3 linked regions of the Homo sapiens genome follow. The protein of the gene in region 2 interacts with the protein of the main gene of each other region in a pairwise test. Each region holds a gene or a part of one and is shown on either strand. Other genes may lie near its edges.

Region 1 (3,561 bases), on a different chromosome or scaffold from region 2:
CCTGAGATAGAATTCACATGCCATACAACGCACCCATTTAAAGTGTATAATCCAGTGGTTTTTCGCAGCTCACAAAATTGTGCAACCATTAGCACGATCAATTTCAGAACATTTTTAACACCCAACAAAAATGCCCCATATCTTTTCCTTCCACCCTATTAATCCAGGCAAACAAAAACACTCTTTTTTTTTTGGAGACGGAGTCTCACTGTGTCACCTAGGCTGGAGTGCGGTGGCGCGATCTCAGCTCACTGCAACCTCTGCCTCCTGGGTTCAAGCGATTCTTCTGCCTCAGTCTCCCTAGTAGCTGGGATTACAGGCACACACCACCATGTCCGGCTAATTGTTTTTGTATTTTTAGTAGAGACGGGGTTTTGCCATGTTGGCTGTCTCTACTAAAAATACAAAAATTAGCTAGGCTTGGTGGCGGATGCCTATAATCCCAGCTACTGGGGAGGCTGAGGCAGGAGAATCACTTGAACTCGGGAGGCAGAGGTTGCAGTGAGCCGAGATGGCGCCACTGCACTCCAGCCTGGGTGACAAAGCAAGACTCCATCTCAAAAAAAAAAAAAGCCATTTTTCCCCTATTTGATATCTTTTCTTTCACAGATACAAGGGAGATGCGTATTGGTGCCTGTAGCTCACTGCAGGCTATCGGGCATGCTCTGCCACATTTTGCCCACGATACTCAGGGTTTATAGCTACACAAGGATCAGTTTGCTGGCAGTTGTGCACCGCACAGCCAGGAAGGAGTAGATCCCAGAAATTCCTTCCCAAATGGTATTCCTTTTAGACGTAACCTGGAGAGTAAGAGTCAGAAGATGCCGGCACTCATTGCTAAGTGAAAGATGCCAGTCTGAAAGGTTACGTGCTGTGTATTCCAACTGTAAACGAAAAGCAAAACTAGAGAGTGAAAGGATGAGCGGTAGCCAGGGCCTTGGGAGAGATAGGATGAAAGGGATGGATAGGTGGAGCACAGAGGATTTTAGGGGGTGGAACTCTTCTGCAGGGTACCATGATGGGGGGCACGCAACATGATGCGTTGTCCAAACCCATAGAACGGCAGAACACACAGAGTAAACCATCATGGGGATGGATGTAGTTAATTATCTAACAGTATTGGCTCATCAGTTGTTACAAACGCACCACTCTAATGCAAGATGTTAACAATAGGGGAGACTGCGCAGGGCAGAGCAGGTATACATACAGGAACTCTGTGCCATCAGCTCAGCTTTTCTGTAAACCAAAACTGCTCTAAGAAGAGTTTATCAATAAAATACATTGTAAAATAAAGGAAAAAAGGGCTGGGCGTGGTAACTCATGCCTGTAATCCCAGCATGTTGGGAGGCTGAGGCGGGTGGATCACCTGAGGTCAGGAGTTTGAGACCAGTCTGGCCAAATGGCGAAACTCCATCTCTACTAAAAATTAGCCGGGCGTGGTGGTACATGCTTGTAATCCCAGCTACTAGGGAGGCTGAGGCAGGAGAATCGCTTGAACCTGGGAAGTGGAGGTTGCAGTGAGCCAAGATCGCACCACTGCACTCCAGCCTGGGCGACAAGAGCGAAACTCCGTCTCAAAAAAATAAATAAAGGAAAAAAAAGATACAGGCAGATTACGCATTCCATTCAGTCATCCACAGTTAGAACAGTTTATCATCATCCCATACAACCAGGGTGTCCCTCAGACAGCTGCTGCCGAGTTCCCAGACTCCCATCTCACCCGTCAGCTTCCAAAAGCAGGCGTGGTCCTGACAGACACAGGGCTTCGCCCTTTCAGGCACCCAGTGTAACTGACCTAAGAGATGGCATTCTCTCTCTCTCAGCCTCTCTTGAGGTATGAGTACAATATTGGATTTCCCTCATTGCATAACCCATTTAATTTGTTCTGTTAACTCGGCTACTGTTTCTCCTCTCCATTTGTGATTGGTTTTCACCCAAACTTTTCCACCTTTGTAAGGGATGTTAGCTTTGGCCACTGTACCTGGTCCAGATTGCAGCGGCAGCAGTACTAGTCTAGCAAGTATCCCCCCCCAACCCCAATCCATTCCCATTTATATAGGGTGGGGTTACACAGGTATGGACTATTGGCTGTCTTGAGCACTAGGCAGCTAGCTAGCTGTGTTCACTGTTAACCTCATTTTGCAGGTTGAGGTAAAGGCGCAACCCACCCATCAGGCACTTAAAAATTCTCACATAAAGGCTAAAAAGCATAGTCATAATTTCTTTCTTAGGATCTGTCTCAGTTTCCAGCATCTGCAGTTGCAGCTCTGCTCCCAGGATGACTGATATGGGAGGAATTGCACCAGCATTCTTCCCCACCCCTTCTTCTCCACATCAATTGATCATACCTGTATGTGTCTATTTCTGGACTCTGAATTCTGTTCTGTTGATCTATATGCCAGTACCACACCATCGTGATTACCGTAGCTTCGTAATAAATTTTGAAATTGGGAAGTATGAGTTCTCCAACTTTTTTTTTCTTTTTCCAAGATTGGGGATAATCTGGGTCCCGTGAATTTCCATATGAATTTTAGGATGAACTTGTCAATTTCTGCAAAGAAGTCAATTAGAATTTTGATGGGGATTGCGTTGACTGTATAGATTGATTTGTCTCTTTGATAAAGGACTATCATTAAAGATATCACTTATGATTTAACTTTAATGCCTTCTTTTTTTTTTTTTTTTAACAGTCTCACTCTGTCACCCAGGCTGGAGTGCAGTGACATGATCTCAGCTCACTGCAACCTCAGCCTCCCGAGTAGCTAGGACTATACGCACATGCTACAATGCCCGGCTAATTTTTGTATTTTTAGTAGAGGTGGGGTTTCATCATGTTGGCCAGGCTGGTCTTGAACTCCTGATCTCAAGTGATCTGCCCACTTTGGCCTTCCAAAGTGCTGGGATTACAGGCTTAAGCCACTGCACCAGGCCCTTTAAGGCCTTTTATAATGCTTTTGCATTAGTCAAAGGAGAAAATCATCTTGAACTCCTGAATTTGGATTTAGAAAATGAGGGCCATAGCCGGGCGCCCTTGCCTGTAATTCCAGCACTTTGGGAAACCGAGGCAGGTGGATCACGAGGTCAGGAGTTCAAGACCAGCCTGGCCAAGATGGCGAAACCCTGTCTCTACTAAAAATACAAAAAATTAGGCCGGGCGCATTGGCTTACGCCTGTAATCCCAGCACTTTGGGAGGCCGAGGCAGGCGGATCACGAGGTCAGGAGATCGAGACCATCCTGGCTAAGACGGTGAAACTCCGTCTCTTCTAAAACTACAAAAAATTAACCAGGCGTGGTGGCGGGCGCCTGTAGTCCCAGCTACTCGGGAGGCTGAGGCAGGAGAAAGGCGTGAACCCGGGAGGCGGAGCTTGCAGTGAGCCGAGATCGTGCCACTACACTCCAGCCTGGGCGACAGAGTGAGACTCCATCTCAAAAAAAAAAAAAAAAAAAGAAAATGAGGGCCGTATTTTGGGGATGGGGACTCTGGCCTGGCTGGCAGGGTACCACAGCAGCACAAAGGGCCACCGTCATGTCCTGCTGCTCTTTTCCTTACAGGAAGAGCG
Region 2 (3,561 bases):
GCAAGACGCTGGCATCAGACTCTGCATCCCTACAGCTCACAAAGGCCAGAGGATGCCCCTCTACCGCATCAGGGCTGCCAGACAGTTCTCTCTCCATGACCCTCCTCCCCGCTCAGACATGGAGTCCGACCCCTGTTGTAGTAGGGGAGGGGCGGCTTCAGCTCAGAGAGGGGAGGCGACTCGCCCAAGGTCACAAAGCCAGCTGGTGGCCGCATCTGACCTTGAACCATGGACTCCCCATTCTCCTCACTCAGCTCTGTGCCATTTCCTGCCACATCTGCTCTCCATCTGGCCCTCAAGGAGGGGAACTTGACCGGCAGTGGGACCCCCGTGGGGTTCGTTACTTGAAGCAGAAGGAAGGCTTCCACACCTGAGCCTCGATCCCGGCGTTCCGGGTAGAGAAGGAGGGCCTGGGGGCCTGCTTGGCTCGGGGAGACCACGCCCTGGAGGGAGACACGGGGGAGATGTCACCGCCGTAAGGAGGGCTCACGGCAGTGGGCTGCAGGCTGTCCTGGCCGGGGGAGGTGTAGAGGCCCGGTGAGGAGCGCGAGGGCCGAGGCAGGGCAGGAGATGGAGGGAGAGCCCCCTTGGGCAGGTTGGGCACCAGGTCCAAGGAGCTGGGCTTGGCGGGCGAGGCAGCTCTTGGTGAGACCTTGGCAGGCTCCTTGATAGGTGAGAGGACAAAGAGCGAGGGGCGCAGCTGGTATGGCGGCTGCTTGGTGGGCTCTGGGCGCAGGACCCCGTTCTCAGGCAGGTAGCCATGGTAGAGGGAGGCAGGCGGGGTCCGGGCTGGGCTTCGGGATGCCACTCGGAAGGCCCCGGGGGCGTTAGTGGGGTATTTCCAGGAGGAAGGCAGGGACATGGTAGGTGATGGGCAGCGGGCCAGCTCTGGCGTGTGGCTTGAAGACTCGATGACATATTTCTCCATCCGTGACTGGCGGCGGGCGTAGAGCTCAGCTCCCTTCCCAGAGGCCTCGGAGAGGTTCTGGTTGGGTTTGGGCTTCGGCTTGGCCTGGATGCGGGGTGACTTGAGGCAGGAGGCCCACTCTGGTACCACCTCCTCCGCCGCCGCGGGGCTGGCCCTGTCACGAGGTGCTGGCTCCTGCTGGAAGTTGGAGGCCTCGGCCCCCAGTGCGAAGGGCTCCTCCTCCACGCCTACCTCCCCCTGGTCCCTCTGCCGCCGCTTCTCATCCGCTGTCTGTACCAGATCCAGCAAGTCTGGATTCGGGGTCACCTTGGGCTTCTCCACGAAAGTAAACATGGATTTGCGGCTGCCCCGGCGGGCCATCGACTCCTCCAGAATGCCCGTCTTGCTGGCAGGAACCGCCTGGCCCTTCAGATGAGAAGACTTGGGGTCGGAGCTGGGATACAGGACAGAATATGAGGGAGGAGACCTCACCCAGGAAGCCAGAGGGGCTGTGGACAAGGTCTCAGTGTAGGTGGGGGGTGCAGTGAAGTTCCCCAAGGGGCGTCTCTCTGAGGCCGGGCTTCGCTGCCCCATCATCCTCCTTTCCACCATGGGGCTGCGGGACATTATGTGTCTCTGTGGCCGGGGGCTCCTGTCTGGCAAACTGGGGGGCTGGGGAGCCGGGGCCTTCTCCCCAAAATGTCGTCTCTCTAGCATGGGGCTCCTCTCCATCTGGCTGGTGCCCCCTGGCGCCTGGATCCCAAAAGGCCTGGCCGTCCTGTTGACCACTGATGGGGGCTTGGCCAGTGTGAAGTGGACCTCACTGTAGACCTTGGTGGGCGTGGTGGCAGCTGCTCGCCCAGACATCTCTTGATCTGCTGACACCACTAGGGTGTTGGGCTGGATGTCAATGAGCAGGGAGCTGGACATGAAATCTGAGGCTGGGGGCCTGGAGCTGGGGATGAGCGTAGCTTCTCTGGAGAAGGTGCTGGTGGTGGTAGCTGGAGTTGATACCTTGTCAATTAGGAGTGTGCTGCATCTCACCTCCTCAGCCGGTGCCTGGGGTTGCCCATCAGCACACAGGGTGCTGGGTTTGGAAGCAGGCCCTGTGCCATTAGATGGGAGTTGGGCCTCTGAGGAATTCTGTTGGATGCTAGAAAGTGGCAGGCTCTGTGGGACAACAGTTGCCGGTGGGTTCTGATTGACATCGGTGGCTGGCGGATTGTGGCTGCTGTTAGAAGTTGGTGTGGTGAGCGTGGCACTGGGCGAGGCAAGGTTTTGGTTGACATCTGCAGCTGGGCTGTGGACCTCAGCTGGAGGTGGGGCCGGTGAGGACTGCTGGGCCTCTCGGTTTTGGGACAGGTGCAGCCCATTGGCTGTCAGCAGTGCTGCATTCTCCTTTAGATAAACCACCAGTGGTACCTCTTCCTCCTCACTGGCCACCTTCTCCAGGTGCCGCAGCAAGCTAGCCTCCTCTGAGTACCCCTCCATGCTGTGGCCAGGGACCCCTCTGTCGGGGCTCTGGGGACTGGGGTGCCGTGGAGGGCCTGGCTCCGGCAGCGAGGTGGAACTCAGGCTGAGCCCCGGTGCATGGCCTGGGAGGCTTGAAGGGAGCACTCTGAGGGACTCCTGGCTGGGCTTCTGTCCCCTCTGGCCGTGGCTCTCCAAGGTGAACTCGTTCACCCTCTGCCGGCGCCTGTTGAAGAGCTGGACGCCACGGGAATTGGAGCTGGGAGGGGTGGTCAGCTGGGCTGCAATCTGCTGGCTCCGCGCCTTGGCTTCTTTCAGATCCTTCTCCGTGAGGCTAGTGCTCCGGCCCAACGCTACAGGGAGGGACAAAAGCCCAGTTAGCAAACAGGAATGCAGTGACACAGGGGTGCACGGACAAACAGGCAGACAGAGATGGTCGCCTCGGCCCTTCCTACACAGGATCTCTTCTGGAATTTAATCGTCACTCACTGTTTCTTAGAATTAGCTCACTTCGTAATCAGCCCTGACCTACCTTTCATGGCCCAACTCAAATGCCACCACGTCTACGCCACCCTGATTATCCTCTCAGGATTAACTGGTCCCTGATTTGGAATCCCCCTGACAGTTGCTGATATGGCACTTTACCAAACTGAGTACGAACACCTCACCCTAGAAGTCCCACCGTGTCCCCAGTTCCTCCCCACTGCCTTCTCCTCTCTCACTAGGCTCTGCCACACTGGCTTGCTTTCTCTTCCTTGAAAATGCCAAGTATGTTCCTGCCCCAGGGCCTTTGGACTTGCTGCTCGCTCTCCTTGGAATAATCTTTTCCCAGGTAGCAGTCCATGCTGGTTCCTATCTTGCCACTCAAGTCTCAGCTGGAATGTCCCCTCTCTGGAGGCACCTTTCCTTCTCCTATCCCATCTGTTTTGTTTTCTCCATAGCATTCACCAAGTTGAAATGATCTTTATGTTTCCCTGTCTATTATCTGTCTCCTCACCTACAGCATAGCTCCAAGGGGCAATGACCTTGCCTGACTTTTTTTTTTTTTTTTTGAGAAGGAGTTTTTGCTCTTGTCGCCCAGGCTAGAGCGCAGCGGCGCAATCTCGGCTCACTGCAACCTCCGCCTCCCAGGTTCAAGTGATTCTCCTGCCTCAGCCTCCCGAGTAGCTGGGACTACAGGCATG
Region 3 (3,561 bases), on a different chromosome or scaffold from region 2:
CGTGAGCCACCGTGCCCGGCCCTGGACTATATTTTAATTGGGATAGATAGAGAGTTTCTAATCCTTTGGTGAAATTATGGTAGTGTTAACACAATTAGTTGAAAAGTAAAAGAAGGTTAAAATATGTTAAAAAGCAGTTGCAAACTTCTTAGCAGTTCCATTCTCTGGAAAGGTTCACAGATATCCAAATGTAGCACATTAGGGCCAGTTCATGCAGCCCATTAGTAGAGATGTGATTGTAAGAGAAATCAGCTAATTTCTGATCTGATCCCAATCAGATCTTTTTTGTTTTTGTTTTTGTTTTTTTGAGGCAGAGTCGGCAGTGGCTCAACCTCCAACTCCCAGGTTCAAGCAATTCTCATGCCCCAGCCTCCCAAGTAGCTGGGATTACAAGCATGTAATCCCAAACCAAATGTATAAGAACACCTGGCTAATTTTTGTATTTTTGTATTTTTAGTTGCACTATGTTGGCCAGACTGGTCTGAAACTTCTGGCCTCAGGTGATCCGCCCGCCTCAGCCTCCCAAAGTGCGGATTACAGGCATGAGCCACTATGCCCAGCTATGATCCTAATCAAATTCTAATCCTAATTTTGACATACTTTTTGAGTGGACTTGAATTCAACTGGGAACCGGGGAGCAGAGAGTCAATTTTAGGACAACCGACCTATTGAAAGCAACCTACCAAAAATAATTTTAAACACCCATTGCTCTGTAGTGACCTCCATCATTTTTGAACACCTCTTTTGTATTTGCTCTGATGCACGTTTATAGGAAAGTCTAAGCAGAGACTGCCTAGCAAACCTTTTTGTATAATGATTCAACACATTTTCTAATAGGGTAAAAAAAAAAGCAATCATGGAATTGCAGAATGGAATCTGGGTATCCACTAGGTACTCTGGTCTTCTTACGCTGCTCAGACATGTGGCCCATCTAGGTTTTCTAAAGCTAAAAAGCTCTGGAATAGTACATATGGCCCTATTACCTATGGATTCTTTTCTTTTTTTTTTTTTTTTTTTGAGTGCAGTGGCATGATGTCGGCTCACTGCAGCCTCTGCCTCTGGGTTCAAGCAATTCTCCTTCCTCAGCCTCCTGAGTAGCTGGGATTATAGGCACCCTCCACCACGCCTGGCTAATTTTTATATTTTTAGTAGAGACAGGGTTTCATCATGTTGGCCAGGCTGGTCTCGAACTCCTGACCTCAGGTGATCCGCCCACCTTGGCCTCCCAAAGTGCTGGGATATTATAGGCGTGAGCCACAACACCCAGCCTATCTATTGAGTCTTAGTGTCATTCCTCACTTCTCCCGTTAGTGAGGACTTTGTTCTTCTCATCAGTTTGTAGCTTTTGACCCATCATTCATCACTCAGTGGAACAAACCAAATGTATAAGAACAGTGCCTGATGAGTGCATGGGAAGAGCTGGACATGTTTCCTCATGCCACTTTATCTTTTGGCAGGTAACCTGTCTGGTCAGAGTGCAGCTTCAGTCTTGCACCCCCAGCAGACCCTCCACCCTCCTGGCAACATCCCAGAGTCCGGGCAGAATCAGCTGTTACAGCCCCTTAAGCCATCTCCCTCCAGTGACAACCTCTATTCAGCCTTCACCAGTGATGGTGCCATTTCAGTACCAAGCCTTTCTGCTCCAGGTCAAGGTAATAAAGCAACCATCATCGTCCAAAAACAATAAAATGGAGATGTTGCCATACCTGGGACAAAAGCCTGTTAAGGCGGGTTGGGAGACTAGCTGACCAGAACACAGCCTGTGTGTTGTACACTGAAGAATCTGGGTGAAAAGGGAAGTGGAGTGATAATGAGAATCGGTGGGCTCACTGCTCCCATTAGGTGAAATTACTTTTTTTCAAGGAATTACAGTGAAAAGTTACATCTGTGTGGCCTATATGACTTGCTCATTTGGGATTTGGAACTTAGGCTTTAATATTAGGCTGAGATTTCCTGGATGAAATTCTAAGGTGTTTTAGCAGTTTCTGAAGCTAATACATTTTCTTAGCCATTGTAGAATTTTGTTACTTTTAAGTATGGGAGTGGCATACTAAAATGAATAACCTTACAATTCAGTTTTTTATCCATAATCTACTTTCCAAATATAGCTCTGTTTATTAGTGATTGCTGAAAAAATTCCCACAGAGGAAAGAGCTTTTAGTCATATTAGAACAAGAATTGAAAAGACTTGGGCATCTGGGTGAGAAGAATGAAAAAAATATAGGTACTGGCTTATGTGCCTTTGCCACAGTTTCACAGAAATTAGAGATCAGTCTCTTCACAGGAAGAATGCACTTGATTGGTAAGGAGGGCAAACTAGCTAGCATTATTCGAACTAAGAAAAGCTTCCGCATTTTGCAGATGGGTAGAATTAAGACCTAATATTTCATCTCTTACATATCTGACCTTCCCCCCAGAAGCTTGTTCTTCTGTGTGCCATCTTAGTGCATTTCACCACTCCAGCCTCAAGTTTCTAACATCTTGTAGTTGTGTTCTGTCTCTTCTCCTCTCTCTGTTCTACCCTGTTTTTCCCCTCTCACAGGCTGTGCGAAGTTTAACTGTGCATCTGAACAGGTGACATTCAAACCTGGTGGCAGGAGGACCCGATTTCTGAGTACGCCCTGCTTGGCTCTTTGTGTGTAACACCTTTACTCCTTCCTTGTCCTTGTGTTTCTGCTGCTTGGATCTGATGTTTCACGCAGTCCATTTTCATTTGTCTCTTTTTGTATATCATCTACTCAGTGGCTTGGCTGAATTACTGTTACCCTCAGAAGTTTGGGCCCCCACATTAATTATGATAAAAAATGTCAAAATAACAAGTTATCTACAAATTTCAATGTAACTTTCTGGTAGAAGTGCTTCTTCATGGATCTGTGACAGAGAGTGGATATGGTATCTAGGCAATAGATTGCTGGGTCATTTAGAATAATGAAGACTGAACTCCACAGTCGTAGTCAGTGCTGTCTGTCTGCCCTAGCATTAGAAATGAGAGAAATCAGCCAGACACGGTGGCGTACACCTGTAATCCCAGCACTTTGGGAGGCCGAGGCGGGAAGATTGCTTGAGGCCAGGAGCTCGAGACCAACCCTGGGCAACATGGTGATACCCCATCTCTAAAAAAAAAAAAAAAGTTAGCCTGGCATGGTGGTGTGCACCTATAGTCCCAGCTGCCCAGGAGGCTGAGGCGGGAGGATTACCACCTTAAGACCAGGAGGTTGAGACTGCAGTGAGCCATGATTGCACCACTGCACCCCAGCCTGAGCGACAGAGTGAGACTCTATCTCAAAAAAAAGAAACGAAATGAAGAAAGCATTTTGACCAATGATGCTCTTAGATCCTGGCAGCAGGTAAAAATTATGTACCATTTTTTTCCATTCTTTGTCAGAGTAGATTGAAATCTTATTTTTCTTCTCTATTAAGCCTAAGCAGCTACCAGTTGAAAAGATGCTAGGATCTCTTCATTGGATCATTCCACCACTACTGTCCTCTAACCCCATAAAATCAAAAGCGGTTTTTAGTTTGGTTATTCTGATAAAGCACTTAGTCTAATAAAGATCAAAG

The links.
Region 1: the proteins of SYNPO (region 2) and SGF29 interact in binary tests that used the Homo sapiens proteins (3 or more experiments, as listed by UniProt).
Region 3: the proteins of SYNPO (region 2) and WNK1 interact in a two-hybrid assay, tested with the Homo sapiens proteins (one large-scale study listed by IntAct).

What each region holds. Positions count from the first base shown.
Region 1 is NC_000016.10:28,581,360-28,584,920, forward strand, and holds part of SGF29 (SAGA-associated factor 29), read left to right. Parts: intron 1-3,553; coding exon 3,554-3,561. UniProt on the Homo sapiens protein: Chromatin reader component of some histone acetyltransferase (HAT) SAGA-type complexes like the TFTC-HAT, ATAC or STAGA complexes.
Region 2 is NC_000005.10:150,647,113-150,650,673, reverse strand, and holds part of SYNPO (synaptopodin), read right to left. Parts: intron 2,731-3,561; coding exon of another isoform or gene 2,399-2,730; coding exon 371-2,398; coding exon of another isoform or gene 341-370; exon of another isoform or gene 1-340. UniProt on the Homo sapiens protein: Actin-associated protein that may play a role in modulating actin-based shape and motility of dendritic spines and renal podocyte foot processes.
Region 3 is NC_000012.12:899,019-902,579, forward strand, and holds part of WNK1 (serine/threonine-protein kinase WNK1), read left to right. Parts: intron 1-1,457; coding exon 1,458-1,652; intron 1,653-3,561. UniProt on the Homo sapiens protein: Serine/threonine-protein kinase component of the WNK1-SPAK/OSR1 kinase cascade, which acts as a key regulator of blood pressure and regulatory volume increase by promoting ion influx.